2 separate regions of the Homo sapiens genome follow, and region 2 is linked to region 1. The links come from fine-mapping of genetic effects on gene expression. A gene starts in region 1. The other region holds a variant in brackets. All regions are shown on one strand. Distances are between the middles of the regions.

Region 1 (15,529 bases):
GAAAGATGAGAATTTGAGAAGCCAAGTCACTACTCTTGTCACTTGCCAGAGCAGCGTCCCCAGAAATTTCCACTGGCACTCTGGCAAAACACCTTCACTCACAATGAATGGGGACTTAGGTGTTAGTTTGATTGCTTTTGACGGTCTTGATTCTTCCAGGTTGGCACAGAGAACCTGTAACATAACTCCAGAGCAGCTGTTTTCCCTTTTCCTGACAGTATGTCACGTCAAAAATTCTACCAGGCATCACTACTGATCAGGCATAAAAGCACTCTGAATAATAATAACGTTTTATGTGGTTCTTATTGCAAGAGGTAGAATGTTTTTGGGGGTGAGTAGAATTTACATTTGAATTTAAATTTCTGTTCATTTGAATTTAAATTTCTGTACGTTTGTGTGTTGTGAGTGTGTAGGTTTTTTGTTTTTAACACCAAGTATATGTTACTTAATAAGGCAAAATCAGTAAACGTACTCAATTTTGAAAAAAAAAACTATAATTAAATGTGTTAACCGATATTTAATTTATGTGGATAAAATGGTGAGCAAAAGCAAACTTTAGAATTACAGTTAAGACTGAGACAGAAAGCTAACTCTTCATTGACCCTTCCTTAAGAGAAAGATTCTCTCTCTCAGGACTTTAATCTGACATGGTTCCGAAAATAAAGATGTGTTGTTTTTTGAAATTAGAGATTGAAAGATGGTTATTTTAACAAACTGATTGGACCTTTTTCTAAAAAAAAAATTATTTCCATAGGTTTTGGAGAACATGGGCTATTTGGTTACATGGGTAAGTTCTTTAGTGGTGATTTGTGAGATTCGGGTTCCTCCCTTCACCCAAGCAGTATACACTGAACCTGATTTGTAGTCCTTTTGCCATTACCCTCTTCCCACCTTTTCACCCAAGTCCCCAAAGTCCATTGTATCATTCTTATGCCTTTGTATCCTCATAGGTTAGCTCCCACTTATGAGTGAGAACATGTGATGTTTGGTTTTCCATTACTGAGTTACTTCACTTAGAATAATAGTCTCCAATCCCATCCAGGTTGCTGTGAATGCCATTAATTCATTTCTTTTTCATGGCTGAGTAGTATTCCGTCGTATATGTCTACCACAGTTTCTTCATCCACTCATTGATTGATGGCATTTGGGCTGGTTCCATATTTTTGCAATTGTGAATTGTGCTGCTATAAACATGCATGTGCAGATGTCCTTTTCATATAATAACTTCTTTTCCTCTGGGTAGATACACAGTAGTGGGATTGCTGGCAGACTTCATTACCAAGAACCCAAAAGCAAATGCAACAAAAACAAAGATAAATAGGTGGGACTTAATTAAACTAAAGAGCTTTTGCACAGCAAAAGCAATAGTCAGCAGAGTAAATGGACCACCCTCAGAGCGGGAGAAAATCATCACAATCTATAAATCTAACAAAGACTAATATCCAGAATCTACAAGGAACTCAAACAAGTCAGCAAGAAAAGAACAAACAAGTCAGCAAGAAAACAAACAATCCCATCAAAAAGTGGGCTAAGGACATGAATAGACAATTCTCAAAAGAAGATATACAATATACAAATGGCCAACAAACATATGGGAAAATGCTCTACATCAGTAATGATCAGAGAAATGCAAATCAAAACCACCATGAGATACCGCCTCACTCCTGCAAGAATGGCCTTAATGAAAAAATCAAAAAATAATAGATATTGGTGTAGATCCAGTTAAAAGGGAACACTTCTACACTGCTGGTGGGAATGTTTCTAGTATAACCACTATGGAAAACAGAGTGGAGATTCCTTAAAGATTGTAACTATATTTTTTTAAATTCAGAAAAGAAATGGTTGTGTCTCAGTTTTTACTGTTACTGCTTTTGTTGCTCCTAGACCCATTTCGCATTCCCTTTGTTATTAGGGTCCACAGCAGTGTTCCCAGTATTAATGTTACCTGGAAACCTCAGCCTAGTGCAAACCCTGAGAGCCCGTAACAGTGCAGACTGGCAGAGCCTCCCACAGTCATTTGGCTCAGAGCCTTACTCAGCACCGTGCCATGCAGGTGTGCAAGACATGCCCTCTTATGGGTCTTGGGACAGAATTTACAATCAAACAGAGATATATTTCCATTCTCATGGCCAGCACCAAGCATATACCAGGGTTATTCTAGCATTCTAAGAATGTAGGGTCCCTTTTTTCCTTTCCGTGAAGACATTGGGGAACAGTTGTCTCACCAGCCAAGGGTGACCTCAGAAACAGTCTTTACACCAAGCTTTGCTTCAGGGTCTTGCCTTCCTTGTCCCTAGCAGCAGCACTGCCCGTGTGTGCATGGTCACATACTGGTGTGCCCACTGTGCCCGGGGGCTGTGGACTGGGCTGCCTGTGTGCCCAGCCTGTCAATGGACATCTGGCTATGAGGAAGTGCGTGGCTAAGTTAGTGCAGGGAGTACAAGAGAACTTCAGTGAGGAGACAGCTTAGCGCTCCCAACCAGGCATTGGGTGCTTTTGTTTTGTTTTGTTTGTTCTGACTTTTCGATTTTGCTACCTAGTAGAGGTAAACATTCTATGGATGATGTAATGACCAATCCTTCATTCATGGTTTTTTCACATCCAGAAGTGTGGATTATTTTCTATGAACCCTCTCTTTCAGATGAAGATGTCTACCCAGTGAGTCTCAGGGATTTGCCCAGGAAGAAACAGGGAGACAGCAATTGCATGAGGTCCTGCACAGGCCATCCTGACCACAATACTCTGCCTTTCCACGATACCCTCCCTCCATTCCCCAGGAAGGCGGCCAGAGAGAGCTAGTGCTGGTTTAAGACGGGCTTCGGTGATATGAAGGCTAATGTTCTGTCGGCTCACACCTGTGTGCTTTCTGTTGCTTTCAGCCAATCTTTGTGGATTATTCATTGCCTGTACCATCATGGTTGCTAAACAGTTTGGATATTAGTCTTGGATCTTTTGCCTAACTTTAAAGTTGACAGTCAAAACATGATGGAAATTAGTTGAGAATTAAGATGACACATATACTGTGATTTGTTTGTCAGGATTGAGAGAAAGAGTAGGATGTTGTTAGGATAATGATGCATGGTATGTAAGGGAGGTGTCACAGAGTTTGATGTAGAAAATCATGCGTCATATCTGTATTTTTACCTGTTCTGCAAAAATCAATTTTATATTGTTGTTATAAATAAATGTACATTGTATTTTTTTAACCCTCTTCAGGATTAACCCTCCCATTAGTTGTCTATATTCTTTGCCTGCTGTAAAATAGGAGATATGCATTTTCCTTTCATCCCCGTGCAAGCTGGCTAGGAAATGAATCCCCACGGTAGAAACTCATCGCCCTACAAGTTAATAGAAAAATGCTGTTATTGCTGGTGTAAATTAGGTTGCATACTTTATTGGTTACAAGTATTTCTTGCAGGCAATTTTACATCATAAATGCCAAATTAACTGCTGTTGATTATGTTACTGATCATTCTTGCTATTTTATAACAAGAATAGTTACTCATATAAAAATCCCCATATACCAGATATAAAAATAGAAAAACTTGAAACATCAAGAACTTGGGTGGAAGGTGGGAGAGCTGGGCAAACAAAAGCCTGTTTAATTCCGAATTATCTGCAGTGTAATTTAGCTTGAGAATTGGTTTGGCCTTAAGTAGAATAACAGAATCTATTGATGATATTTTTGTTGTGCTTATACCTTTCTGTGTTCCTTGTGTTCTAATGCAGAAAAAAAATTGTCAGGGTCCTTAAGAGTCTATGACTTGTATTTTTGCAGAAAATATTATTTTAGTCAGGGGCATTTTAAAATGCTTTTGTACGAATGTTCAATTTTGCAATTTTATGGTATGTAAATGGATAAATATTGGTAGTAAAACATTTGAATCTACATGATCTTTAATTTGAAGTGTGTTATTTGAAACTTATTGCAAATGTATTTGGAAAATGATTATTGAGGCCTGCAAAAGCCCATTAAAAAGTGCCTGTCTGTGCTATATATTCAGCCTTTCCCAAAGTCAGACCATGCCTCTTGTTTTATCCAGTGACATATGATATAAATTTCTCTTTAGATATTGTAACTACCACCTGTAGACTCAAACGTGGGTTATGATGAAAAATAAAATTTGTCATTTAACACATTTGTCGGGAATTTATCTTTTAGTTGATTAAACTGTTAACTAAAGTGTCAGAATTATTTATTGCAATATCTACCTCTAAAAAGTGTGTGCTTGTGTATCAATTAATAAATGGTTCACAATAAATGAGTTTATAAAAATGGTGACAGTGTATTTGGTTAAGACTTCAAAGGGTTTTAAGCAGTAGAAAACTGCATGTTAGAATCAACAATTTGTGATTGTTCTTATCTACAATTTGTCTTATTATCTGGGTTTACTTTTTTCTTAAAATTTACTGATTCATTCTTCAGCTTTCACATTAAATTATTTGAATTAATTTTATGTATATGCTTACAAACTTTTGGGTGATATTTTAAAAATATCCCATCAATAGATAATTCATCCCTGTCATGTGGATTAACCTCCAGGCATCTCTGTAACAAGAGTCAAGGATTTCTACTGCACATGGTTTAGAGTCTTCGGTTACTCACTTGTTTTTTAGTTCCCTGGGGTGGCTCTACTTGTTTCCTGGGGCTACATGTGTTTCAAGCAGTCAGCCAAAAAAGAAAAAAAATCAAAGTTTGAGTGTCATCTGTAACGATATATCTATGAACATGGGTATGGAGAAGAGCACCACCATTTTTGTTGTTGCTTCCAGAGTCAACAGAAAACCTCACCATCACTTTATCACACTAATTCGGCAATCGAAAACTCTTCCTCAGCATGTGAAATTGTTGCATCAGCTAAGTCATTTTGCGGCTAAATTAAAAGCAGACTGTAGATAGACTCTTCCATGTTGACAATTTCAAAAAGAATTCATATCTTTACATTTTAATAGTCTGAGTTTTTAACATTATGACTGAACGTAACAGCAGGAGAGCCAATAAGGTATGATGGCATGGAGGAGGAATTCAGGAGTCGGCCCTGGGAAGCACAGATGGATTGAAGTCAGGCTGATCCACACTGAAACAACAATCATCCAGCACTTGCCTTAGGAATAACAGGAAATTATTATGATGCAGAAAAGTATTATTCCTAAAGATGATGCCTTTACAATAGCTAATCTGTTAAAGGATATTGCAGATGGTGTCATTTGCCTAAACTTCACAAATAGAAATACATTTCAACCTATTTTTAGAGAGTAATTCATTGTATTATTATAATGCTAAAATTTAACTGGCATTGAAATGGAGCTAAGCTACTGAATAAAATGTGAGATTCTACAAGACACACACACACACCCTACAAACACACACATGCACACATATGTCTTCTTGAAGTAAGAGTTTAAAGGTCAAAACACGCTTTCAAAATTCTGAGGTCAAACATATTTCTGGAGTCAAAACATACTTTTAAAACTGTGCTATGATATTGAAACAAATTGTTTCACAGGCGTCAAAGCAGGAACAACCATTCTGATATTCGAACAATAAGTTTATGGCAGCCAAAACTTTGGAGCAGAAAGACCAAATTATTGGATTTCACTTACTCTTTGCCCTCAAAAAGCCACAAGCATGAAAAAAAAGCAATGGAAATGTCTCCTGGTGCTATGAAAAGGGAGGCGTCTTGCTCATTTTAGGGCATTAAAAAAAAATCTTTCCACCGTTTTTATTTTTCTATTTTCCTGCATCTTCGACATCATCAAAGCATGTTCTCTGTTTCTGTCATTTTGAGACAAGCACTAACTGTACTGTCTTCTGTAGTCTGGCAGAGATAATGTATCTGGGTTTCCTTAGTGATATTTTAAACACATTTTTTTTCTGTCCTCCCATACAGAGCGCATACTTTTGGTGGAATTCCTGTTGTGTGGGAGACCAGCTTAGTTCCATTCACACACTCACACTCCCAGATGTGGCCCCATGGGTTTATTCCTGTCTCGCTGTTTCAACAGTCAGACGTTTGTTCTTCAGGCTGCTTGCTCCAGTATCCTCGTCAGACAACCGCAGGGAGCCTTTGTGCATTTATTTATTTATTTGCTTGGTATGCTTCAGTGTTTTGGGGGCTTTTCTTCCCACTGAGTAAGTTAAAACTCTGCAAAAGTTTGCCTCCAGAAAAAGGGAGCCAAACTGCCCCTTGATTACTTGAATTGTGTAAATGAGGGATGGCAGGTGTTGGGGCAGGGAAGGTGGCAGAGAAAGAAGTGGAAATCATTTGGAATCCAGGATTATCACTTATTGTGCCCCTGTATTGAAAAATTACAAAATGAAACTGAAAGGTTGGGCAACAGAAAGAGGATTATGTTTATTTTCACTACCACTAAACTTTGCCACTACAGGTTGGTTTAATTAACCCGTGAGATGAAGTGCTGAACTCTCTGAAAAGATAAATGCTTTCAGAGGTGCCTCAGACACGAGAAACACAATAATATTTATATTTCTTTTTGACTGAGGAAGGTCACTGTGGTGACAGTTTCAGGAGGACACCTGTATTATTCTCTTTTGTCAACAGGACTTGTAATATGAACAAAACATGCAGTCACTTCCCACCAGGATGTGTCCTTCTGGACATCAGCATACGTGCAAGATGACAATTTCAGGCAAGAATTTTTTCCTCTAATCTATGATTTAATCAGTTGGGTGTCTGGGAGTGGGTTAGAGAACATTTCTGAAGTTAAAGCTTGAATGTTTTTCATGTGGCTGGAGGTGAGGGCAGGCGTCCAGGAGACTCAGGCAGCAGCTGCATAGCTCAGTGCCTAAGTGATCTCTGCTCTTAGGAGGATCAATTGAAAGCTTAGGGGAAATAGGGCTCCCAGGAAGATGGGTGCTTAAAAATGAATACTGTAAATGTTACTCAGCATACAATTGAGGGAAAGCCATCACTCACAGGAAGTGAGCACAATTCTTTATTATCTGGGCCCTGTCACTAATGAAACATTCAGTGTAGAAGAAATCAGTCCCCTTTGAGTTTAGGCTTGTCATGATGGCTCTGGGTTTCCTTCATTCACAGCAATCACACTTAAAATGTTTACAGTCTGAAGACCTGAAAAACATGTCCACACCCTTGAATTCGTTGTAGTTACACATGAGGTCAATGTTATCCATCTTCATTTATCAAATAAAGAAATTGAAAATATAGTCTGTCAGAAAATAATTCCAATTCAGATCTTCAAGAGTTCACGTTTTATTGTCCTATTGTACTAGAGCTATTTTTGTAAAACATACATCTTTAAGCTTTCAGACAGAATCGTGAAAACGTAAACTTATCACACACAACAGCATAATATGCAATGCAGTGCAGTCTAGGATATACGCATTAGTGTCAATTTTTAATTAAAAAATGCTGAATTTTGTTTAAAAAGTTTTTTTTTTTCCTGGATCTGGAAAAGGAAATGCTTTTCTGGAGTAAAACACAGAGGATAAGGTAGAATTCTTACCTGAAGTGCCTGTAGGAGATTCCAACGTGAATGCATTTCACACGCTTTTACAAGCTACTTTCTTCTCCTTTCTTTTTTCAATCATCTTAGCAGTCATTGTTTATTTTCTGGAGATGAGTAGTTTTTATTTATACTAGAAAGCCCATAGTTTTTACATAGGTTGCCTTTCATTCTTGGTAAGACACTGAGAAAAGGAGAAAAAGAAAACTTTAGAGATAGAGCAATGGTATAATTGATTGAATGTTACGTGAACTGTCAAGATCAGAACTTTCTCATACTATCTTAGGAATAAAAATATGTTCTGGTTAGTAATCCTCACCAAGTTTGGAAGGTTAGAGGTGACTCAGCCTCCATGAATGTGGTCTGGTCTTATTTTAAGAAGGGCTTCTGAGTCATGTGGAGTTGTGTCAAACTATGTGTTATGTTATGTTATTTTAAAAAGACAGCTTGGAGAGAGGAAATTGAACTATCTTTTTTTTTTTCCAAAAAACTCTGCCCTTTAATAGAAGAAAAGGGCAAGTTATTTCCCACAAATCTCACTCTATGTAATGTAGCCTAGAATGTATTTTTACCACAGATATATTCTTAAAGTAGTTTGGCATGACCTTACTTAGAGTATTTTAAGTTTGTGACTTGAATTGTTTTTGCTTAATATTTATCCTTAGATGTGGTTGAATGCACTGTTCATAACTGAATAAATTTACTATCGATCCATTATTATCGTGATTGTTCACCTATTCAAATTGATAGCTACACAGATACATGTACTATTTTTATCAATATTCAAAATGCATAATGTTAAGTGAACTTCAATTTTCTCAACTCAGAAAAGTAGCAATAGAATAAATCTTGCCTATCTCCCTGAGTTGCAATAACATGTAATAAAATCCTTGGAAAAGTACATCAGATAATGACGGGTTCATGATGGCTCACGTTGACTGGTAATGCCATGGCTTACAATTGAGTATGAAGTCTGCACTGCGGCTCAGCTGAGGGAAAGGCACATCCAGGTGGGTGAGCAGGTCTGCTACAGGAACTCACTCTTGCATTCTAACTTCCCTGAGCCTTTGGGTATGTTTCTCGATGTTATACCAAGAACGTTCTGACATTTTAACCTCAAGTCGTATAGGTCACCTCTGGTTCCATGATTCAGCCAACCGATTGAGAAAATTATTAGTGCCATTATTAGACCCTCAAGCTAAGACACTGAATCAATAAATCCGCTTCAAAACATATACCATGATACAATTGTATATTATTTCCATCTTAATCCCACACTCTTAAGATACATTGTCATTCTTATTTCCCAGGGTTTGTTGATATTAATTGGCAGATCATGCAACTCTTTGGATGTGTATCATATCCCATCACAGGTTTGAGACTTGAGTCAACTCTAGGTCTAAAAGGAAGAAAAAGGAGTGGGAGTAGAACTTAATGAAGATTAGTAGGGCTCTCAATGCAGTACTAATGGGCGGTGGTGGGCATTAGAGATTCTTCAAGAAAAGGGAGACTAACTTCCTCAGGCACGGCTGCAGACTGCTTCTACTGGCCAAGAAGGCAAGGAAAGCTGTCAGAATTAAGGGCTCTAGGTTTCCAGATTAACTAGAATTTGCTCATATATTCCCTTCCCAAACCTCAGAATCCCACTCCTTCCCAGTAAATGTCCTAAATTTAATAAAAGAGACTCTATGAGGTTTGGAATTCAATTTTGGCTATAATTCAGCCACCCACAGGATGAAACTTTGGGTTTCCTGTTCAAAAACCTTGGCTCTCTGGCTACAGGAGATAGGATTTCTTTCAGGACCAATCTAGAAGCTTTCAGGACCCTTATATAGAACTTGATCTTGGTACTTAAAGCCCTGAATTTCTCCAGTGTAGTTAGAACTAGCCAACCAACACAATTATATTCATCATTTTCATTAAAATGGTCAAACTCAATAAATTCTTGGTTACTCAGATGGGCACTTAATAAAAGATGTGTAAAGGTGATAATTTGAGTCTTTCTTTCTTTCTTTCTTTCTTTCTTTCTTTCTTTCTTTCTTTCTTTCTTTCTTTCTTCCTTTTCTTTCCTTCTTTCTTTCCCCTCTCTCTTTCTCTCTGTCTCTCTATCTCTCTTTCTTTCTTTTTTTTTCTGACCTCTCCATCTGATGCTAGGAACTACTTACCCCTCTTTTACCACTGTGAATAGGGTACTTAGTGCTTTTAAATCTAATCAGATCAGAAAAACAATTCCAAACACACACACACACGCATACACACACACACACACACACAGAAACAACTCAAAAACTGTACCCTTAAGATCCCATTCCTCTGAAACCACCCTTAGTACCAAATTCTGTGTAAGTCAGGTTTAAACCAGAAATATAGCAACTCTACAGATTTGTCTTCAGGTATTTGACCTTACACAACATTGGGAGCTGGTTAAACCATCTCTGCAGAGTTGCCTTTGTGTCTAATGCTGGATCTTGAAGTCCATAGACTGGACACCTGAGAAGAAAACATGGGTATAGGGTGGAGGAGGAATGGTGAGCTGGGCCCCAGAAGCACAGGTTGAAGCCCAAATGACAGACTGAGCTCATGTCAGTTCTCATCACCTCCACCTTTGCTTATGTGGGTGCAGAGGACGGGACTCTGTGTCATGGAGCTAAACACACACACATCTAGCCCAGGAATCAAAGAAGCTTCAAAAAGAGGAAGATGCAAGTTCGGCTGGTGCCTCCCATCAATATCTGCAGATAAGTGACAATGTATGTAAGATTTTTTTTTTTAAAGGCAATCTGGACAATACAGTAAAACCTCATCTCTACAAAAATTTAAAAATTAGCTGAGCTTGGTGATGCATGCCTGTGGTCCCAGTTACTCAGGAGGCTGAGGTGGGAGGATCACTTGAGCCCAAGAGGCAGAGGCTGCAGTGAATTGAGATTGCACTGCTGCAATCCAGCCAAGGCAACAGAGCAAGACCCTATATTAACTTGTTTTTTTAGAGGAAAGGCTGCTCCTCCATTTCCCCAGGCTAAATCTTCCACAACAGTGGCTACAAACATTAAGAAACATAGGAAAGATTGTCCTTGAGAATGTAGTTCGTTTGAGCCTAGATGCTACCTTACAAAGTTATCACATCACTTTGCTTTCATTTTCCATTTTCTTTTGCAACTTTTTATCTTTCTCTGCCTTCCAAACTTTCCTACTGCAATGCAGAGTATATTCTTGTTTTTCTTCACGTTTATTTTTAGGATGCAGCTATAGGGAACGTTGATTAAATGTCTGAGGACTTTCTTCTAAGGTTTTCTAATTGCTTCAGCAAAACTGCTTAATGGCTATTTTTAAGTCCTCTAGAGGCATTCTTAAAAACCAGCACACTGCTATCAAATTCCACTTGCTCTTCCACGAAGGTTTTCAGAATATTTCTTTATCTTATCATCACCATCCTCAACAACATCATTGTTAAGTAAAACATGGCACACGTGGCCATGAGCTACACATCTAAGTTTCTCTACTGACCTTCTGTGATGAATACGATTTCATTGTCAAATAAGTAATTTAGGGATCCTTGTCTGTTTCCTGTTCTAATCTCAGGGGTACTCACTACATGATGAGTAACACAAGAGGATGAGATGAATCACTGCACCAACGTAGTTTAATTTTTAGTTTAATTTTTGTGGTCAGTGCTTTACTGGCTTGGGATTGGGAGAGCAAAGAAATAATGAAATTTGAGGTTAGAGAAGCTCTGGCTTCCCATTGAAGGTATGAGAGGAAAAGAAACCTAAGAAAGAAAGAAGCTGGGCAAACATGGCTCCATGTACCCTGGGTTTTCTCTTACACTGGTCCTGCTTTGAGGATGAACACACACAAGGGTAAGGCATGGGAGAGGGCATGGAGCAACTGTCTAAGTTATGATCGAATAAAAATGCAGCATTGCTTATTCAGGATCGACAAGTAAATACAGTGGGATCAGGATTACTTCTCGCTGCCAGCATTTTGATGAAGAAAGGTATTCAAAAATCTGCTTCTATGGAGGTACAATTTCACACAGACTTACATTGCCAACTTTCACTTGACGGAAACTTTGTAGACACAATGCAGAACCTCTTCTCCGGAAGCAGATTATGTCAGCAGGACTTTAGTGTGTTGATTTAGGGAAAGGCAAAAGGTGATGGTGTTGTAATTAAAAAAAAAGGGGGGGCCCACACAGAAAGTCCCAAACTAATTGTTTAGAAGATGATTTTGTGGGGTGGCATGAAAAAAGTTTGGATGAAACATTTTAACTTTTTAACGTTCAGCAGCTTCGTATCCTACGATGAAAATCTCTCTCCCTTACACTCATCAGCTCACTCTTACCTGGACCATCCTCATTAATCAATGCGCCCACATCTTCCCCATTTAGTGAGGCTCCCAAATTCTGCACATCAAGTTCAAAGAGCACATCACATACAAAGAACAGAAGCTTATTTATTAATTTAAAGCTGATTCAAACTTCCCCTTAATACCCAATCCAGAAAGTTAAGACTGATTCTAAATGTTAAAGTGTGTTCAGGAAACATGGTCTTGTTCATCAACTCAGATTTCCTCCAGGTTCCTGAGCAAGGGGGAATTGCCTGGGCCCCGTGCATAACTCCTTCTCCTGGTTCACGCTTCTTGTGTGTCCCTGAAGATGTTCCTTGTCATTCTGGTTGCTAGACGCCCTAGTGACACTTGATTCCAGTTCTCTGAGTGGTGAGTTCAGTGTATTCTCATGACTTGGTGATTTAGCTGGACTCTATCTATCTAATATCAGGCCTTGAGGTCAGTACGTACACCCTGGCATCTGGATCTGACCCCATTCAGTCCTCAGCCAGTGCAGCTCTCCCTGCAGACTTCGGCTGGTTTGTTGAAGCACCTCCAGAAAAGCTCCTTGGCTCTGTACTCAGAACCCTCCTAATCCTTTGGGCAAAGGAAAACAACTGCATTGCTATCATATTGCAGACACCCTAAGGATGCCTCAGGAAAGATCACCCCAGGCTCTCCCCGCCTCACCAAGCTGCATGCTCACAGATACTGCATTATAGGTAATGACAGCAGCATCATAAGTGGGTAAGTGGGCACCCTGTTCATCAGTCTTCTCTCTCATCCCAGAGAGACAGCCTTTCCTCCTAGCTGCTGCTCAAAATCCTTCCCCTTCTGAAAGAGGGTCGGAGAATGTGTGCCCCAACATTGCCCCCTTCTGTCTCCATCTCTCGTGCTTCCACCTTTCTGTCCAGGTGTTACCCTATTTCTTATCTCCTCCCGTCCTCTGTTGGCTTCTGCTCTCCCTCTTTCCTAGAGCTGTGGTGATTGAACAGCGCCAGAGAACATGTTTCATTGAGAATATATAGGAAAATATATTAGTTTAATATTTTTAAAACCTATCTCTATTAGGTCATTTGAAAAAACAACAGGCAAACAAAATCCCTCCCTACTTATAGACCCATCTTTCCCCTGTCCCAGGGAAGTGTCTCAAGAATATAGACTATATTTTGCCGCTGTCTTCTCACCAACTTTTCACGTCTTAATCCCTCAGCCTGACCGCCACCCCCTTAACTCCACTGATATATTCCTGACCACCAATGATTCCCAGGCCAGCAAATCTAATGACAACTTCCATGCATCTTCCTTAACTATGAAAGAGCATTTGTACTACTGATCTCTCCTTTGTGAAACACTTATGTTTTCGGTTTCAAGTAGACGACCTGCACTGATTTTTGTCTGACATCAGTGACTTAGCCTTCTCAGTCTTTTTTATTTTTATTTTTTTTCAGTGTCACCTCTAAACATAGAACAATCTGTGTTGGAGTTACTTAAGTGCAGGTCATCTTCATATTCACTCTAGACTCTTCCTATTCACTCCCACAATTCCCATTGTCAGCTCAACATCAATGAAACACTAAAATAACAAAGGAGCGCTACAGCTCTTCTGAAATTGGAAAACCCATATCCTACTGCACACCTACAATCTCCCCGTGATGCCACTGGGTCATTCCCATCTCAGTTACCATACCTTGGCCCAACCTGCCATCATCTGTTGCCCCAGATACTGAGAAAGCTATTAGCTGTTATCTTTGCACCCATTCCAAGAGTCCTCTAGGAACTTCTCCATGCTGTAGCCAGAAGGGTTTTTCAAGATAAAAATGTTTTTTACATGACCCTCTCCACTATTTTAAAATCCTTCTGTTTTTATCTCCCCCTTTCCTTTTTTTCTTTTTCTTGAGACAGCCTCATTCTGTCACCCAGGCTGGAATGCAGTGGCACAGTCTCAGCTCAATGCAATCTCCACCTCCCAGGTTCAAGCGGCTCTCCTGCCTCAGCCTCCTGAGTAGCTGGGATTACAGGTGCCCAAAACCATGCCTGGATAATTTTTGTATTTTTAGGAGAGACAGGGTTTCACCATGTTGGCCAGGCTGGTCTCAAACAACTGACCTCAAGTAATCCCAAAGTGCTGGGATTATAGGCATGAGTCACTGTGCCTGACCTCTCCCTTGCCTCTTAAAAAGCAAAAGCCTACTCATGACCTCTCCGTGGGCTACCTCTTGTCTCATGTGGCTGTGTCCCTCTGCTGTCCCTTTGCTTTTTGTGTTTCAGAGACATTGGGTCCTACAATGTGCCAATTTTTATCCTGCCAGGGACTTTCGTACATAAGATCTCAGTCTTACTCCCACTGCCACATCCCTCAGAGTCCCTTTTTCTCTGGCTAACTGCTACTCATCCTTCAAACCTGAGCTCAAATATCATATCCTCAGGGTAGATACTCATCGCCATTTGGTCTCACTCAGTCTTTTGTCTTCCTTGGCCTGTGTTGCTCTACTTCCCTGCAGTATCTACACCTCGGTCTTAAAATATCTGTGTAGCATGTGTCAACATGTCCTCCCTCTTGGAGGCCAAGAAATATTCCATTGTATGTAGACACCACATTGTGTTTATTCATTTACCAAAGAACATTTGGGTTGCTTCCACTTCTTGGCTATTGTGAATAATGTTGCTATGAATATGGGTGTACAAATATCTCTTCAATATTCTGTTTTCACTTCTTTCAAGTATATATGCCCATAAATGGAATTGCTGAATGATGTAATAATTCCATTTTTAACTCTTGAGGAACCACCATAGTTTCTCATAGTGGCTACGTCATTATTTTATGTTCCTACCAACAGTATGCAAGGTTTCCAACGGCTTTACACCTGGCCAACTCATGTTACTTTCTGTTTTATTTTCTGTTCTTGTTTTTAATAGTAGTCATCCTAATGCATATAAGGCAATATCTCACTGTGGTGTTAATTTGCATTTCCATAGTGATTAGTGATGTTGAACAATTTTCATGAGTTTATTGGCTTATTTTATGCCTTATTTAGGGAGATATCTATTCAAGTCTTTTACCTACTTTCAATTGGGTTATGCAAGTTTTCTGTTGTTCTTCCTTTGTCATATTTTGTAAGTCCTAAAATTAAAAATTAATTTAATGTGCATTGTCCCTGCTCAGCAATAAATTACTTTTGCAGTTTTTAGATACCATTGCTGATAAATGTCTTCTATCTAAAAGTACATAAAAGAATGTCATATTTGTAAATAGCTCTTTCATCATGATTCTTTTATTTTAGCTCAAAAAGTTAAACCATTGTTTTTCTTTGGTCTATGGTGGGGGTACAGGGATAGTGGAGTAGTTTTCTATTCTATTGCAGATACACAAATCCCAGATAATTATTTTTCGACAGTTTTGGAAGTAACATTTTCTTAGAATGTTTTCCGTACTTCTACCTATGGTAGAGATGCAAAAGGAAGGGCTTATAATGGATTGATGGGAGCTAGCAAATAGGCTTGAGAGTATCAAAGAGGTGAGCTTGGTGGAGGAGACACTCATTTCTCTGCACACATCAGTTCCTCATTCTTCCTGGTCAGAGGTGTCCAGGAAGACTGTAATTCCCAGCTCCCACATAACCATGGGATCCAGTTCTCATCAGGAGACTATGAGCACCCATGATATGCTCAACTTGAATCTAAAAGACCTCTTTCCTTCCTGCTAGATGTAAGT
Region 2 (15,529 bases), 45 kb before region 1:
CTATCTGCAGAATATATTTCAAGCCTGTCTGTGTGCATGGCAGGTTTCTCACCCTCTAGCATTAAGAACAAAGAAATATAGTAAATCTCACTAATGCAAATCCTGGCATGTTTTTATGTCAGTTTCTTTTGCCAAACCTGAAAAGTTACTCTTCAAAACTGAAAAAATGCCAGAAGAACATTCTCATTTAGGAGTTAATGTTAATGTATTAATTAAAAAAAAAATCAGTAAAACCCAGGAAAAAAGACCCAAAGTCATAAAGCTGTTGAAGTGATAGCCACAAAGAGCACTTTTAAATCTTCAAAGAACACTAGAATTAATGCCCAATTAATTATCATCACCTTTGTGCAAGGTAGGTTTTATAAAGATGCAACATGGGGAAATTGAGCAACCTGCCCAAGGCAGGGGAATGAGTACCCAAGTCTCAGCCTTTCTAAATCGTAGGCAACGGTGTGCGTGTTCTTTTTGACCATGGGAGAAAACTAAAGCCCGTAAAAGGTGATTACAACATGAATACCTGATGTTTCAGATATTTGTCATAAACCCACAAATAAAATCTATCACCCATAAAGAGGTTTTACTGGAGTGAGACGATGATATATCTGCCCGGGGTGATGCTATGAAGCATGACTTTGACACGCTGGGTTTTCAACAGCATGGGAAATACAATAACTTTCCCCAAGTGAATGGTTGGGAGTGTGATTATTTACACACATTGAATTTTACGTACCCAAAGCAGGAAGGCAGCCAGCTTGGCCCATTTGCTAAGGATTTTGGACACAAGTGGGTCTGCTTGAGAGCCAGTCATAAAATGTTTGCTGGGCCAGTTCAGGGAAGGGTCTTGGAGGTAGCAATGGTGGGCAGTTTTAGGAAGTGGATTATGAGACACAAAGAGGTAGCATTTATTTACTGGCATTTACCCATTTCATAACTCAGAGAAAGTAGCATGTTTAAGGAAAGCGCAAAGAAAAGAATCTTTCTGGGACAAAGCAGCTGATTAGCAGGGACATGGAGGGGTTTTTAAGGGCGGTAAGGAAAGGCCCTACCCACGTCCCTCCCTGCCCCACTTCACCAGCTCTGACATGAATGGGTAGGGCGCTTGTTCTGCCCACAGCTATGACAAAAGCCCTAAAGCTTCATCTTCTAGGATTTCAAACTTTCTCACTGCTGTGCCAGCCATTTTATTTCACATGTTTCTAAAAGGAGTGATTTTAACAAAACCAATTGAGCAAATCCCCTATCCTCCCATCTATAAAGATGGCTACAGAGGGAGAAAGAGAACATTATTCTAAAGAAGCCACTATCTTTTCTGCCTCACTTTTCCTGCCCAAGCCACAGTGCCCTCCACACCAGCTGAACCCCCACTGATATAGGGGCTAATGCTCTGGGGACTTGGGGGGAATGTGGGTATGATGCCCATGGGGCCCGGAATGGGACAACTGGAGTAAAAAAGATATGTAAGTTTCCTGTGGGTCCGTGGACGCCATGGGCCACAGCTCAGGCATGAGCTGTCATGAAGGCCCTTGAGAGGGCCATGGGGTGGGCCACACCTGCTGCATTATTCGGGGGGGTCAGCAGGACACAATCTGGAGAACTTTACAGAGCCTCCAAAATGAAACAAAACATGCACACCCAAAACAAACAAACGAAAACTGGAGCCAACATTTGCACACATATTTTAAGAATAAAATGGACTTAATGCCTGCGTACAACTCGGTTCAGACTCAGTCAAAGTTGCAACGAACACCATTTTATTCACAGCGATTAGGATTTTGAAGAATGACATATATTGTTCCAGGAATAGTTCGCTGAGGAAATCACCAAGCAGCTCCAGCAGCCAGGCCCTGTGCTAGAAGGTGAGATGTGGAGATGGGGACCAGGACCCAGTGCTCCTAGAGGAGGAAGCCAGCTCCTGAGAAATCACACTCTGTGATCATACGTGAAGGTGCTCCACAGATGACGTCCTCTAACCCTGGTATCCAAGACTCCCAAATTCCCATCTCTCACCCTGCCTTTTCACTACAGCACCAGGAACTTTTACAGTGAGTTCTGAAATAAGATCATCACTTTGAGTAAAATCAGGCAGTCAAAATCGCAGGACTTACAGGGAAAATGGGGCGAGACCCAATGCTCAAAAATTCATCAGTGACAAGTGAAAAAGTTAGAAAATGATTGAGGACTTCAGCACAGTTTTGCATGGGCTAAGTGGCTGAGAAGACATAACTACAATAAGTCTGACAGTTTATTTTGAAAAAGCCCTCGTGTTTCTGTTTGGAAGTGGGTGTCCTGAGGGTTATGAAGTGGTGGCAGGGCGTATTTGATACAGGAAGGTATGTCCTAACCCCAGATGTAGAAAGGTGAGCTCAGGACATGAGGGAGAAATTTAAGTTGAATGCGTGGGTGCGTTTGTGTGTTCCTTCATGGCCTGGTACATCTGGGTAGCTTTCCGCATTGATCTAATATTCCTAATAGACATAAGCAAACATGACATTTGAGAATTTCTGTTATGCTCAAATTATTTCTTATTATACCAGTTGCATTGGAACCAATCTGAATTTCCAAACAAGCATTATGGTTTCTGCCTACTCAACACCTCCCTTAGTTATTTGCTGGCCCTTTTGTTTATAAAAAGGTCTTGAACAGAATTTGTGATTCTGCCCCACCGCCACTTCGCTGCACCCCTCATGAGTCTGCTCCCCCAACATTCTTTTTCATATGTAAGTAAAAATTGCAATCATCCATCCAGTTGCTCAGCCCCAAACCTAAGGGTGGATCATAAGTTTTCTCTTTCTCATTCCCCATATTCTCATCTCTTATGTCAGAAAATCTGAGAGTGACAGTGTCTCACTCTCTCACCCAGGCTGGAGTGCAGTGGTGCCATCATAGCTCACTGCAGACTCTAACTCTTGGGCTCAAGTGATCCTCCCACATCCACATCCCAAGTAGCTGGGACTACAGGTGTGCATCACCACACTTGGATAATTCTTCGTTTAATTTTTTCTTTGATAGAAATGAGGTTGGCCATGTTGCCCAGGCTGGTCTTGAACTCTTGGCCTCAAGCAAGCTTCCCTTTTCTCCTCCCATATGTTGCCCAGGCTGGTCTTGAACTCTTGGCCTCAAGCCGTCCTCCCTCCTTGGCCTCCCAAAGTGCTAGGATTACAGTCGTGAGCTACCACACTTGGTCCAAATTCCTTCCTATAGCCCAAGATGCCCTATGGGATCGGCTCCCACCTTCTTCTCTGACTTCATTTTTTCATGTGCTTTTATTCATTAACTTCTTAATATTTTGAGAGGCTATCAAGTTCACTCGCACCTCTAGGTCTTAGGAGGTTTTTTCTTTGCATTGGCTGATATTTCCTCATATTTTAGTGTATCTGGCTTTTTCCTTATTACTCAGGATTACTCAGACAGTTCTTCACAGGAGCCTTCCTGATGACCGCTATAAAAAGCAAAGATACTGAATGCCAAGCACATTTGAAAGAGACTAGCACCAAAGGATGAGAGATCATGGGTAATAGAAACACAAACGTTCCCAAAAGGAAACAACATGAGGCAAAACTTGCCCCATCTTCACCGATCTCTCCCGTGCTATGGTGGCCAGCTTCCCGAGCCTCTGTCACCATGCCCTGTGGTCTCAGTGGCCCCATCTTACACATCATCCTCATTCACCAATTCCGTTTGTGCCCAGTTCCCACAGGGCTGCATTTTGTGTTCCATTGTGAGAGCCAACTAATTTAATAATCCCTTCTAATATTTCCTATGTTAATCTCTCACCACAGAAACATAAAGGGAATAGTAACACTAGTCACAACCAACATGACAGCATTGCCATGCCGAGAGGCCCTTGGCCAGCTATGGGTCTGAGCGTCTCTCCAACAGCACAGGTGGGGAGGACCACAGCCCCACCTGTGCTTGGAGTGGATCCCGTTGATCACATGGGACAGCCAGCCAATGAGAAACACCCACTGCTGCTCCTTATGTTTCCCATGTTGAATGAATAAAGGAACCCAGCAACCCAGGCTGACATCTGCACTATGCAGACGCCAACTCGGTGTCCTGGGCTGAGAGTGAAGACACAGAGTGAAGGATATGGGGGTGGCCGCTGGTACAACTGTTCTCGAAGGACATTTTTTTATGGAAAATCAAACACATTTTGAAGAATATTCTTAGTTACTCATAAAGGCCACATTTGTACCAACAGCACCAAGCCGGGCTTCCACGCTGGCATTGCTGGAGCCCAGCGCTGACCCGAGCAGGCTGCACAGAGGTGCAAAGCGAATGCAAACACCACCTGAGGGGCCTGAGCACTTATATTTGGCCAGGGTGCAGATGTCCAGTTTAGAAGCTGATGGTTTCCATGGGTCCTGTGCTGATGTCATCCTGAGTCACTCAGGGAGCTGCTGCTTGTGCAGTGATTTCATTGCATCCTCCTGTCCCAGCATCCAATCGCGGTGGCTTAATTGTGGAGTTGAAAGCAGAGTGAGGCTGGGCGCGGCGGTTCACGCCTGTAATCCCAGCACTTTGGAAGGTGGAGGTGGGCGGATCACCTGAGGTAAGGAGTTCGAGAACAGCCTGGCCAATATGGCGAAACCCCATCTCTACTAAAAATACAAAAAAAAAAAAAAAACAAAAAAAAAAACAAGAAAAGAAAAATTAGCTGGGCATGGCGGCAAGCGTCTGTAATCCCAGCACTTTGGGAAACCGAGGCCGGCAGATCGCTTGAGGCCAGGAGCTCAAGGAGCCAGGACTGGCCAACACATTGAAACCCCGTCTTTACCAAAAACAAAAAAATTAGCCAGGCATGGTGGTGTGCTCCTGTAATCCCAGCTACTCGGGAGGCTAAGGCAGGAGAATCGCTGGAACCCGGGAGGCAGAGGTTGCAGTGAGCTGAGATCGTGCCACTGCACTCCAGCCTGGGCAACAGAGTGAGACTCGATCTCAGCAAAAAAAAAAAAAAAAAAAAAAAGAAAGAAAAGAAAAGAAAAAGAAAAAAGAAAAAATTTCAGAGTGCACTCCTTGGATTTCTTGGAAATTACAGCCAAGTTATTAGTTGAATGAAATAATGCTTGCCAGAAAATTTCACAAGTTAACCTGCATAAGAGTTTTCCCCTAATGTAGTATTTGGGTGCATTTTCACATGCTTGATGGAGGAGGGATGGAGTATTTAGTCTCTGAGGTCTGCCTAGACCTTATGCCAATCTTGAAGTGGCCCAAACCTTCCGTGATGACAGGGACATCACAGTGACATTGCCCTGTATCCCCCATGTTTTAAGCAGAACAAATTCTGTCAATGTGGATGGAGTAAATGAATACAAAACAAAGCCATATGGTTGTTTCCTGAAAACTTTTTCCTTCTGGAAATTTCCCAAAGCAGCTGTGCATAATGACTTACATTGGTCTCGATTGCCACCTTTTTCTTTGGACCCGTTATTACACTTCTTACTCTTAAAAGGTGGTGGTTAAGTATGTATTTTGCTGTTTCTCATCTCTATTCTGATTATTTTCACATGTATTAATATTTACAGATGGATTCTTGCTGCTGTGTAAAAAGCATGGTACTACTGCAAGACCGTGGATGTTATCATTCCATTTTAGGTTCTAGCTAGCTGTGTGGCATTAAATAAGCAACTTCACTTTTCTGGCTATAATTTCTTTGACAGTAAAATTGGAAAAAAATGATGGTAAAAAAGTATTTTTAATTTCACTTACAGCCTTAACATTTTACGGTATTTAAGTCAGCCTGGGTGCCTAGCACTTTGTTGCCTATTTTCTATTTTTAAGCATGATCATAGTTTTCCTCTCATACTTTCCCAACTTTGTCTCATTCTCTCCTGAACTCATATGAATCAGAAAAGGATTACCTTCCTCCCCTAGCACTTTGAAAACAGTTAACAAAAAACAGAAGTATCCTCCTGTGCTTCTCAGATGTTTCCCTTGCTGTTAGAGCTTCTATATTAGGACTATTTGTTGGGCTGCATTGTTGTAATAGACCTGTCATCTCAGAATTTACTTAAGCCAGACAAGACCTACTTTCTATTTTCAGCCTACTCTCTTTTTGTTGAGCTAAGTGCATACTGATCATCACACAATTTTCCAGACCTCTTCTTTCCTGATAGGTCGGTTTACAGCAGTTTCCAAAGAAAATATTACCCTGGTGGAATCATTTCTACCGTGGAGCAAAGCTCTCAGGCAAGTCTTCAAAATATTTGTTTCCCACTGGGTGTATCTGGGCCCAGATAATTATTTGTTCTAATAAAAGAACAGGATGTGCTTGTCTAAGAAGTACTGTGAAGGCAGTATATGTGGGATAGAAGATTGAATACAGAATGGTACATAGTTTTGATTTCACTAGGATGAAAATTATGCTTTACCTGTAATGAATCACAGTGGAAACATCCTTGTTGAAATATTAAACTGCTTCTCATTCACAAGGTGTCAGTGTTTTAATCCTTTAGGGAAAGTGCTTAATGCACATCATATTAGACACGGTGTGTCCCATCAATCAGATCCAATGGGTGATAGATGACATGCAATAGACCAAGTGCCATACCCTTATTAACAACTAATATCCATGTTACTGCATTTCATTAATCTGCCTAGAAGCCCTCCTGTAATAAAAGAAATGACTTATTTCTTCGGTACCCCTTGAATTTCCTTGCTAAACTTTCATTTAAAATTCTGAATTCCAGCTGGAAGACACTCAAGGAAATGAGCCTTTGGGATGAATACAATTGAATCATGAAGAGACTAAATTACACTATCAATTGTAGAGTGTTACCAGGCTGCCTGACAAAAAAAAAATGTGCAAAAAAATTGTGGCATAAAGAAGTATAACAGATTACCAAAAGACAAGATCAGCATTTTCTTCCTTCCTGGATTTGCATTAGTTCCTTGAATATAAAGTGCACACACTTAAACCTTGAGAACTTTTATATTATCCTGATGTAAAGTGATAAGGTGTTGACTCTAATTTAAGATTGGTTTATAGTGCATAAAGAAAATATGATTTGATTTAGATGTGGCTATGCCTGAAACAATGCAGCATGGTGTAATTACAATGAGAGGCGCTCGTACTGAATGGGAGACTTCCTTGCTACTAGAAACCTATTGATTTTGCTGCTAGAAATATTAAGGAGTCCTTTTAAATTTTTTTTGCTTAGAAGACAGAATTAATACTTCTTCATAGGGTTGAGGGAGGGCAGAAAGGACATTTCTGGAAGAGGAGGTGTCTGGATGTGACTTGAAGCGTACATGGTGGGTTTTCAGGATGAACAAGGTGAAGGATGGCATTCCAGACAAGAGGAAACAGCTCCTGCAGAGTCACGGATGCATGAAGCACGTGTGGAGGCCCAGGAATGAAAAATAATTTGTTCTTATCAAAGCACAGAATGTGAGGAAGCGTGGTGATGAAGCTGTGCATGTGGACAGGTGGCCAACTGAGTCATGTTTTCCAGGAATTTACACGGGAACATTACAGATCATATTACCCTAGGAAGAATTCTCTACCATTTATTTAAGGACCTGCTATTTAACAACATGGCAATCAATAATCAAAGTCCAAGGAATGGTCACTCATAGATCTGATAATAATTTTTCCAAAGGGTTGAAGACAAGAACTTGATCTCTCTTCCTTTTCTTAATGTTTCTAGTATTAACATGTGTACTGACAACTTGATAATCCTTTGAAGTGAAGAGAATTTTTCCCTGGGTCTCTCCCTTGCATCTACCAGAAAGAAGAAAGTTTAAGACACTTGTTTACTTAGGCCAGATCCTTGTACTGACATAGACTCGGAGAGAGGTAAATAGGCTATTGACTCTGAAATCTCAATAATTATCACAATGTAGTTACAGATGAATTATTCTACAATCTTTATCAAGTCTGGCGTATGTTTCTCAACATTTAACTGAATGATTTGAATTAGTAGCTTTACATAGGAGCTTCATGCACTCTGTTACTTTTATTTATTTATTTATTTATTATTTTTTTTTTAGGCGGAATCTGCTCTGTCACCAGGCTGGAGTGTGTTGGCGTGCTCTCGGCTCACTGCAACCTCGGACTCCCTTGGACTCCCTGGTTCAAGATTAAATGTTTACCGTACATTCCTATGGTCTTTAAAGTTGCTTTTTGTTTATCTTTATAAGGCTGAGGATGATTCTGGGTCATACCCACTTAAGAAAATTAACACTGCTATGCTTGACTCTGGAATAAAATGTTGCATTCTTGCAGGTGCATGAGTCAGTAAGCAAGAAGACCGAA[C/G]ATGTTACTTCTTCAGGAACATTTGGGCTCTACTTCCCTTTGTCCTTTTTATGTGAGCTGGGCATTTAATTATGTATACAACTACACATTCTTGTCAGGTACCTCAGGTTTCATAAGAGGTTGTAAATCTTGTTAAACCACACGCTTCTACCTTAAGCCAAGAGCATGGAATAGCTGCTGTATTCCAGATATTTTTGGGGAGTCTAACCTGCTACTAACTCATGCTCATTATTTATTAAAAGGCTAATTACAAGAAGGATTCATTGAAAAACATAATTGGACTATTGCCTGAGGAGTATGTCATCCATCCTGAAATGCAGGCTTCTCTAAGTTAGGCTGGAAGAGAGCTGCATTTCTGGATGGTGCCCTTTAGCTTGCCAGCCGCCTGGGTCTTCTCTCCAGCCTGTCGCTCCAGGACACTTCTCCTATGGAATCACACTGTGGCATTGTGCCCTCCAGGACACTTCTCCTGTGGAATCACACTGTGGCATTGTGCCCTCCAGGACACTTCTCCTATGGAATCGCACTGTGGCATTGTGCCCTCCAGGACACTTCTCCTGTGGAATCGCACTGTGGCATTGTGCCCTCCAGGACACTTCTCCTATGGAATCGCACAGTGGCATTGTGCCCTCCAGGACACTTCTCCTGTGGAATCGCACTGTGGCATTGTGCCCCATGCCTTCTCTCCAGCCTGTCGCTCCAGGACACTTCTCCTGTGGAATCGCACTGTGGCATTGCGCCCCATGCCTTGAGGGGCACGATGGAAATGGCCACTGTGTTTCTGGTTGGAACACTCATGAACAGTGTTTACCATGTCACACACTGTCCTTTTTAGGGAGACCCATGGGGAAAATGTGCCAGTGAACTAAAATAGATGTGTCCCTCCCTCCTAAATGAGTAATTTTCTTTTCCCTCATGGAATCTCTGAATCACTTAATTAATTGTATTTTTTACTAGACTTCATTCAAAATTTCGAGTTAAATTTCTGGTTCTCTAGTATCAGTCTGTGACATTCATGCATTTTGTGTACTTTCTTTAGTACGATCTCTCCAAACCTTATTTTCTATTTCCCAAATATAACTAATCACTAAAAAAAATCCTTATATTATGTACATGTTTGTCTTAAATATTTAATGAAACATGGTAGTTGATTTAATTAAGATAAAATGCCAGTGATATAAGTAATATATCATTATAAATAATAATACAGAATAATGTATTTTTATCTGTAAATATATTTAATATTATTTATCCTATTTAATATTTATCATGTTATTTATGAATAATATATTGTTAAGTATAATAATAAAAATAGATAATACGTAATGTAATAAATAAAACACCAGTTATATTTGCTATGTAGAATAATCTTATTGAAATTGAATTAATTTTAGACCCATTTTTCTTTAATATATAAATGAGTAAGTTAAGTACAACAAAAAAATAGTCAGACCTGGCCATATGACAATTTCTTTGTAGTTTTAACACATCTACCATATATGATCCCCAAGATTTCAAAATAAAAGTAGACAAAGCAGGCCGGGCGTGGTGGCTCACGCCTGTAATCCCAGCACTCTGGGAGGCCGAGGCGGGCGGATCACGAGGTCAGGAGATCGAGACCATCCTGGCTAACACGGTGAAACCCCTTCTCTACTGAAAATACAAAAAAAAAAAATTAGCCAGCCTTGGTGGCGGGCACCTGTAGTCCCAGCTACTTGGAAGCTGAGGCAGGAGAGTGGTGTGAACCCTGGAGGCGGAGCTTGTAGTGAGCCAAGATAGCGCCACTGCACTCCAGCCTGGGCGACAGAATGAGACTCCGTCTCAAAAAACAACAACAACAACAACAAAAAAAAACACCACCAGAGATGACTTAATCCAGGGTTTTTATTTTAAAGACAGCAGAACTGAATGTAATGGCCAGGCTCAAGTTATCAGACAGATAGAATACCTGGCTTTTTCATGTAAGTGTGATCACTGGTGAATTGTTTAACTTCTGTTAACTCAAGCTTTTCCCCATGTACAGCAGAGACAGTAATGATTGTGGTGATGCTGTGGAAATTACATTAAGGAAAGTATGAAACATTCAGCACAGCTCCCAGAGTGTCCGTATTGCTATCAAAAGCCAGCTCCTTCTCTCCCCACACTGCCTTCAGGACGGCAGAGCCAAGGAGAGAGCCCCTCTCAGCATGCGTGTTCTTCTCCATGGTGGATTTTAATTCACTTTGGCGTATACTTACAGTTGATATTCTCCTACTTGGTGTTCTGTTTTACTTTGTTTTTTCTTTTGGAGCTATTTACTCTTCTCAATCTTCCTACATAACCATGCTGTCTTTGAGGCAGAAGATGGTTCTTTTTCCCATGATGAGTTCTTTTCCCATGTCCCTGGAGAGGCAGGTTTCCTCCAGCCCAGGACACTCGTACCACAAGGTTGGCAGGTGGCACCCTGGATGACCAGCCCTTTGGGCAGCATCTCTTTCATATTCACTGGCTGCAGTTTCCTAAAATGCCAACATTCATATTCCTCGTGAAGTGTATGACAAGCCATTTCCCATTGAGTTAAAATGTAATTGCATCTGGAAGGGGTTTTAGATGACATTGTTTCTTAACACCCGTTGTCAATATATGGGTACCCCAAGCACTGGGGGATTAAAGGGGACAAGCAAGGAGGCTCGAGCTATTTGGGGAGCAGGAACTGCCCTCCAGGGATGGGGTGAGGAGCTTTCAGGGACAGTATAGTGCTCCTGGAGAGATTGTGCTGGTGGCTGGGGAAGTTTAGGAGGCAGCGGCGCGAAGCCAGAAAGATTATGCAATGACCCAATGCAATAACAATCTGGATGTGTTTTGGGCATTGTAGCATGTTCGATGGTTTTAAAAAGCATGATATACAGTCGCCTTGAGTTGGCAGAGTGAGACTGATTAAATGATGAATGTCATGGTAGGTACAGATAAAATCTTAAAAGCACTCGAAAACGTCACATTAAAAAAATTGTATTTTTGGTCAGGATGTGATTTCACATCTGGCTTGAAAGGGCCACAGATGTTTGTGGCATGGGACTGAACTTATATGTGCTCATGCTTTGTGGTGAGAGAATATCTGGCCCTCAGCCTGTGGATTAGTTTAGAGTTTAATCATAAAGCCTAGAATCTGCCTTGTTTCAATAAAACAAACAAACAAACAAATGACAACCAAAATAACAACAAATCCTTGCTGAAGGCAGGCCAAGGTGATAAGGCATCAAAGAAAGGGGTATGAAATTTGATAGGATGCCTGTGATGATCAGGCATTAAGGGTGGGAAGTTCTTGTGAAACTGCCTCAGCAGGATTCTTGCTGAAAAGGAGGTATGCAGGCCCAGCGAGGATGGGAGCCAACGTGGAATCCTCATTGAGAAAAGGGCTGAGAAGGCCCTAAGGAACGTTGTCAAGGAGAGAGACTTTGTCATGCCAAAGCTTAGGATGGCAACTTTATGAAACATAAGCTTGAGATCCCAGGCTGTCCTCCTCGAGCTGCAAAAACTGACAGGTACCGGGAACCTGAGGCCTTGCAACACTGCTGGGTTGAAGGACTTCCATCCAAGGACGTCCCAATGACCCCTCACTGCTGTGCTGATCATTTTTTCTGACCTCTAACCCTTTACCTAAATGATTTTGAATTCCTCCAAACAGGCTGAGATGCCCTTGGCACTGACCCACTTTTTCTGTACACTTCCCCCTCCTCCTCCCCCGACCATGCCTGAATTCAGACCTCTAGCCCTTGGATCTGTTATCTGACCCAAGAAGTCTTGTCAATTTTAGAAGGCTATCACCTTTTAACAGCCATTTCTGCTGCTTCCTGCACACTTTCTAATTTCTCCTCTGCTTTCCCTGGAAATCTGATGCTTGACTTGGACACAATTCAACCCTGTCTCCTTATAGAGACAGCTGCTGAATGAATGCTAGAAATTTAAATTCTGCTTTTAGCTTAGGGTTCTCTGCCTTCTTTAAAAAAGTATTTCTAGAAAACATATACAATATATGCTGCTGCAGATTCACCTTTTTTTTTTGCTTTAATCCTTTGACTTGTAGTAGAAAATTGCTTTTAAGTAAGAAGTTTCCAAAATAGTTACACTTAAAAATAATGCTCCTTTTATACATTTGTTGTGGAAAGGCACTAAAAAATGCAAAATCGTGAGGACAAAAACTTCCTTTGATTTAAACCTATTGGTGACTCAAACAACTTGCCTGAAAGGAATTTACTTTCTTTAAAGCAAATCTTATGCAATATAATGTCCCTTGACAAATTAGGGGACATTAAATATCAGTGAGGGTTCTGCTCATTTTTGGTTCTTCCTAGTGCACGTGCTGAGTGTTCAGCACACTATATTTTATTGAATTCTCCAAGCTACTATCCATGGTCCTATTTATAGAGGAGGAGGAAGCGGGGGCTCTGAGGTGGGATCAACATGCTCACGGTCACCCAGCAAGTAAGAGGGGACCCATTCCCAGCGAGGCTGAGCATTTCCAGGACAGCTGCCAACACCATCCTTTTACTGGGAGGTTCTGATGTACCCAGAGGATGCTGGAAGCTGGGATTGGAAGAATGGGTAGATCTCAGAAATCATGAAGTCCTGTGGTCTTCAAACTGTGCCCCACAAAATGATCTAATGGCTTCCACATGTGGATTTTACAAAAAAGCGTCATCAGAACAAAAGAATGTAAAAACTACTGACTTTTCCCAAAACTTACACTTTCCCAATGGGAAAATTGAAAATTTGAAAGTCCACTTAAATTGCTTCAGGTTGGTCAGGCACGGTGGCTCACGCCTGTAATCCCAGCACTTTGGGAGGCCGAGGTGGGTGGATCGCCTGAGGTCAGGAGTTCGAGACCAGCCTCACCAACATGGAGAAACCCTGACTCTGTTAAAAATACAAAATTAGCTGGGCATGGTGGTGCACACCTGTAATCACAGCTGCTCGGGAGGCTGAGGCAGAAGTGCTTAAACCCGGGAAGTGGAGTTTGTGGCGAGTCAAGATTGTGCCATTGCACTCCAGCCCGGGCAATAACAGCAAAACTCCGTCTCAAAAAAAAAAAAAAAAGCTTCAGGTCACACAGCCGAACAGCTGTGAAGTGATATTTTTTTCAGTCCAAAGTTCTTGCTACCACACTAGGATGCCAAGTCAGTCATTAAAATATAGATAGATAAGACCAGTTTAATTTCCATCACTCTTTCAGCTTCTTTGATCTTCTGTTAAAAATATGTAAAGCTCAAAGGGCTAAGCATTTATCCAACAGCAGAATTGCCTGCAGCAACCACTGACCCTTGAGCTGTGAAGGTGCACACCAGTCTCAGGACCACACAACAGAAGGGGTAATGGCAGCTGATACTGTATGACAACTGGTAGACCTCCGCTACGTCAGGAACTGCTCAATGCTGCTATTTTCTGGGTTAAAGTAGTTGGCAGGTGAACATAAAAATCCAAAATCCATCACTAAAAATTGAATTGAAATGCAAAATAAAATGCTGCTCTGACCAATGACAAAAAAATAGAACTTCTCAAAGAGTTTCGGTGAAAAGCAAGAAATCATTGTGGAGAGGAACTAGGGAGAAGTCAACTCCAAGGTAATCAAAAAGAGTTCTATTTTGCCTGAGGATTTTGGAATAAATTCAACAGCACTAATTGGCCCCGGATGTGAATAGGTAGCCAGGGGCATGGGATGGGGCACAGACACCGAGAGCTTCATCTTCCTGAATAGGAAAACTTAGCTTCCAGTGTTGAGCTGCCACACACACAGCTGCAGATGCAAATGACCCATGTTTCCCTCTGTGTTTCCTAGCGTCTCTCCTTCTAGTCGTATCTGTTGTAAAGACTCTCATTCATCCAGGTGTTATTTAAAATAGAGGAGAGAATAAATTCCATTTTAAAGGTGTTACTTTGGGTCAATTCTTGGAGACAGGTAAACAAGTCAGGGCTGGAAAATATGACTGAGAAGCCAGGGCCACTCCTCTCTCCTCAGCAACAGCAGAGGATGCTGTTAAATAAAGTAATTCACATGAGCCTGTGGGGCCCTTTTACCTGCATGGACAGCCACACTTTTTCATTGTTCCTGGTCCTCTTACCCTCTGCAGGAATTTGCCCAATTCCAAATATGTCTCAAGCTCGTATAGGAAATCAGTTCCTATGGAAGGACTAGTAAGGGTGGTAAATGAATGACTTTTCCCAAAGTAATTTTCATTCTCATAAAAAATGTTTGCAAACCATAAATCCTGTCAGACTTACAAAGGAACAAATCTATAATGCTAGAACTTCACTCACTGAGACTGTCTTTCAGGAGAAAGGACGGGGGATTTGGAGATAAGCAGGCTTCCATGGGGCTTCTTCTCAGGGTCAGCCCACAGTCCTAAAGAGCCCCCGTCTATGTGAGGCTAAAAGCAGGTGCATCTGTACTCAGGAGGGTCTCCATAGACAGCCGTCTTGCCCACCCAGCTGAAGAAGGCTTTTCAGTTTCGACGCATCAACAGCCGTGCTCTGCTCTTGGCAGCGAATCCCAAATGACAGCTTCTGTGAGTGTCCTTGTAGGCACAGTGGCTCTCACACCACAGGGGAGAAGTGCTGTGTCTTAAGCTCATCTCAGGAATATTTCTCCCTCCCAGCAACACCCAGAGAAGGGCCCCCTTCACCCTAGGCTGTGGTCCTGCATGGACGGTGGAGAGCAGTCAGGGTTGAACCCATTCGCCCAGCCCTGCCCTTAAAGGAACGTGTGGCTTTCAAATTGGAGCAGCTTATCCTCTTGATTTTGCGTCATGTATAAATGAAAGAGGAGACATTTTTGGTGCTTCTTGTGACTGGAATCTGCCGTAAGCAAGCTCCCCTGGGAGTATTGGGCTGCGTCTGGATGTCTCACTTACAGTGGCCCTTCGTCTCCATTTCAATCTTTTCTTTACTTTATTCATCCTGCTCCACCCCTTTAGCTGCTCAGACAGCACATGTTGGAGCTATCCTCTCTCTCTCTCTCTGTTTCACCCACATCTAATCCATAGCAAATTCTGTCCGCTTAATCTTCAAAATGTATCTATGATCTGGCCACTTCTCTCCATCTCTACGGTGACTACTGTGGTCCTAGCCACTGTCGTTTCCTGCCAAGATGATGTCCACAGCCTCCTATTTGGTATCGAGAGAAGCCATGGCCCCAACAGCCTAAGCAGTGTATTCAGATGGTGCTGGTTCTCTGCCCCGTATGCTCCATGCGCCCACTTCTCTGTTTGCATCGCGGCTGCAGGGCCCCTGACGCTTCTG

What was found. PIP is the estimated chance that this variant, and not a neighbour inherited with it, causes the effect.
Region 2: its variant is the best candidate, but not a certain one, in a credible set for the expression of LINC00702 in fibroblasts (GTEx, PIP 0.72).

Annotation. Positions count from the first base shown.
Region 1 is chr10:4,236,016-4,251,544 of GRCh38, forward strand. It overlaps LINC00702 (long intergenic non-protein coding RNA 702), which reads right to left and starts at 7,897. Exons shown (of 3, transcript NR_108040.1): 1 at 7,808-7,897; 2 at 7,489-7,672. LOC105376369 (a long non-coding RNA gene) reads left to right here and starts at 11,031. Exons shown (of 2, transcript XR_930588.2): 1 at 11,031-11,345.
Region 2 is chr10:4,191,018-4,206,546 of GRCh38, forward strand. No RefSeq gene overlaps it. Among named protein-coding and RNA genes, the nearest start is that of LINC00702, 45 kb to the right of the region's middle. The variant C/G (reference allele first, on the strand shown) is at 8,258.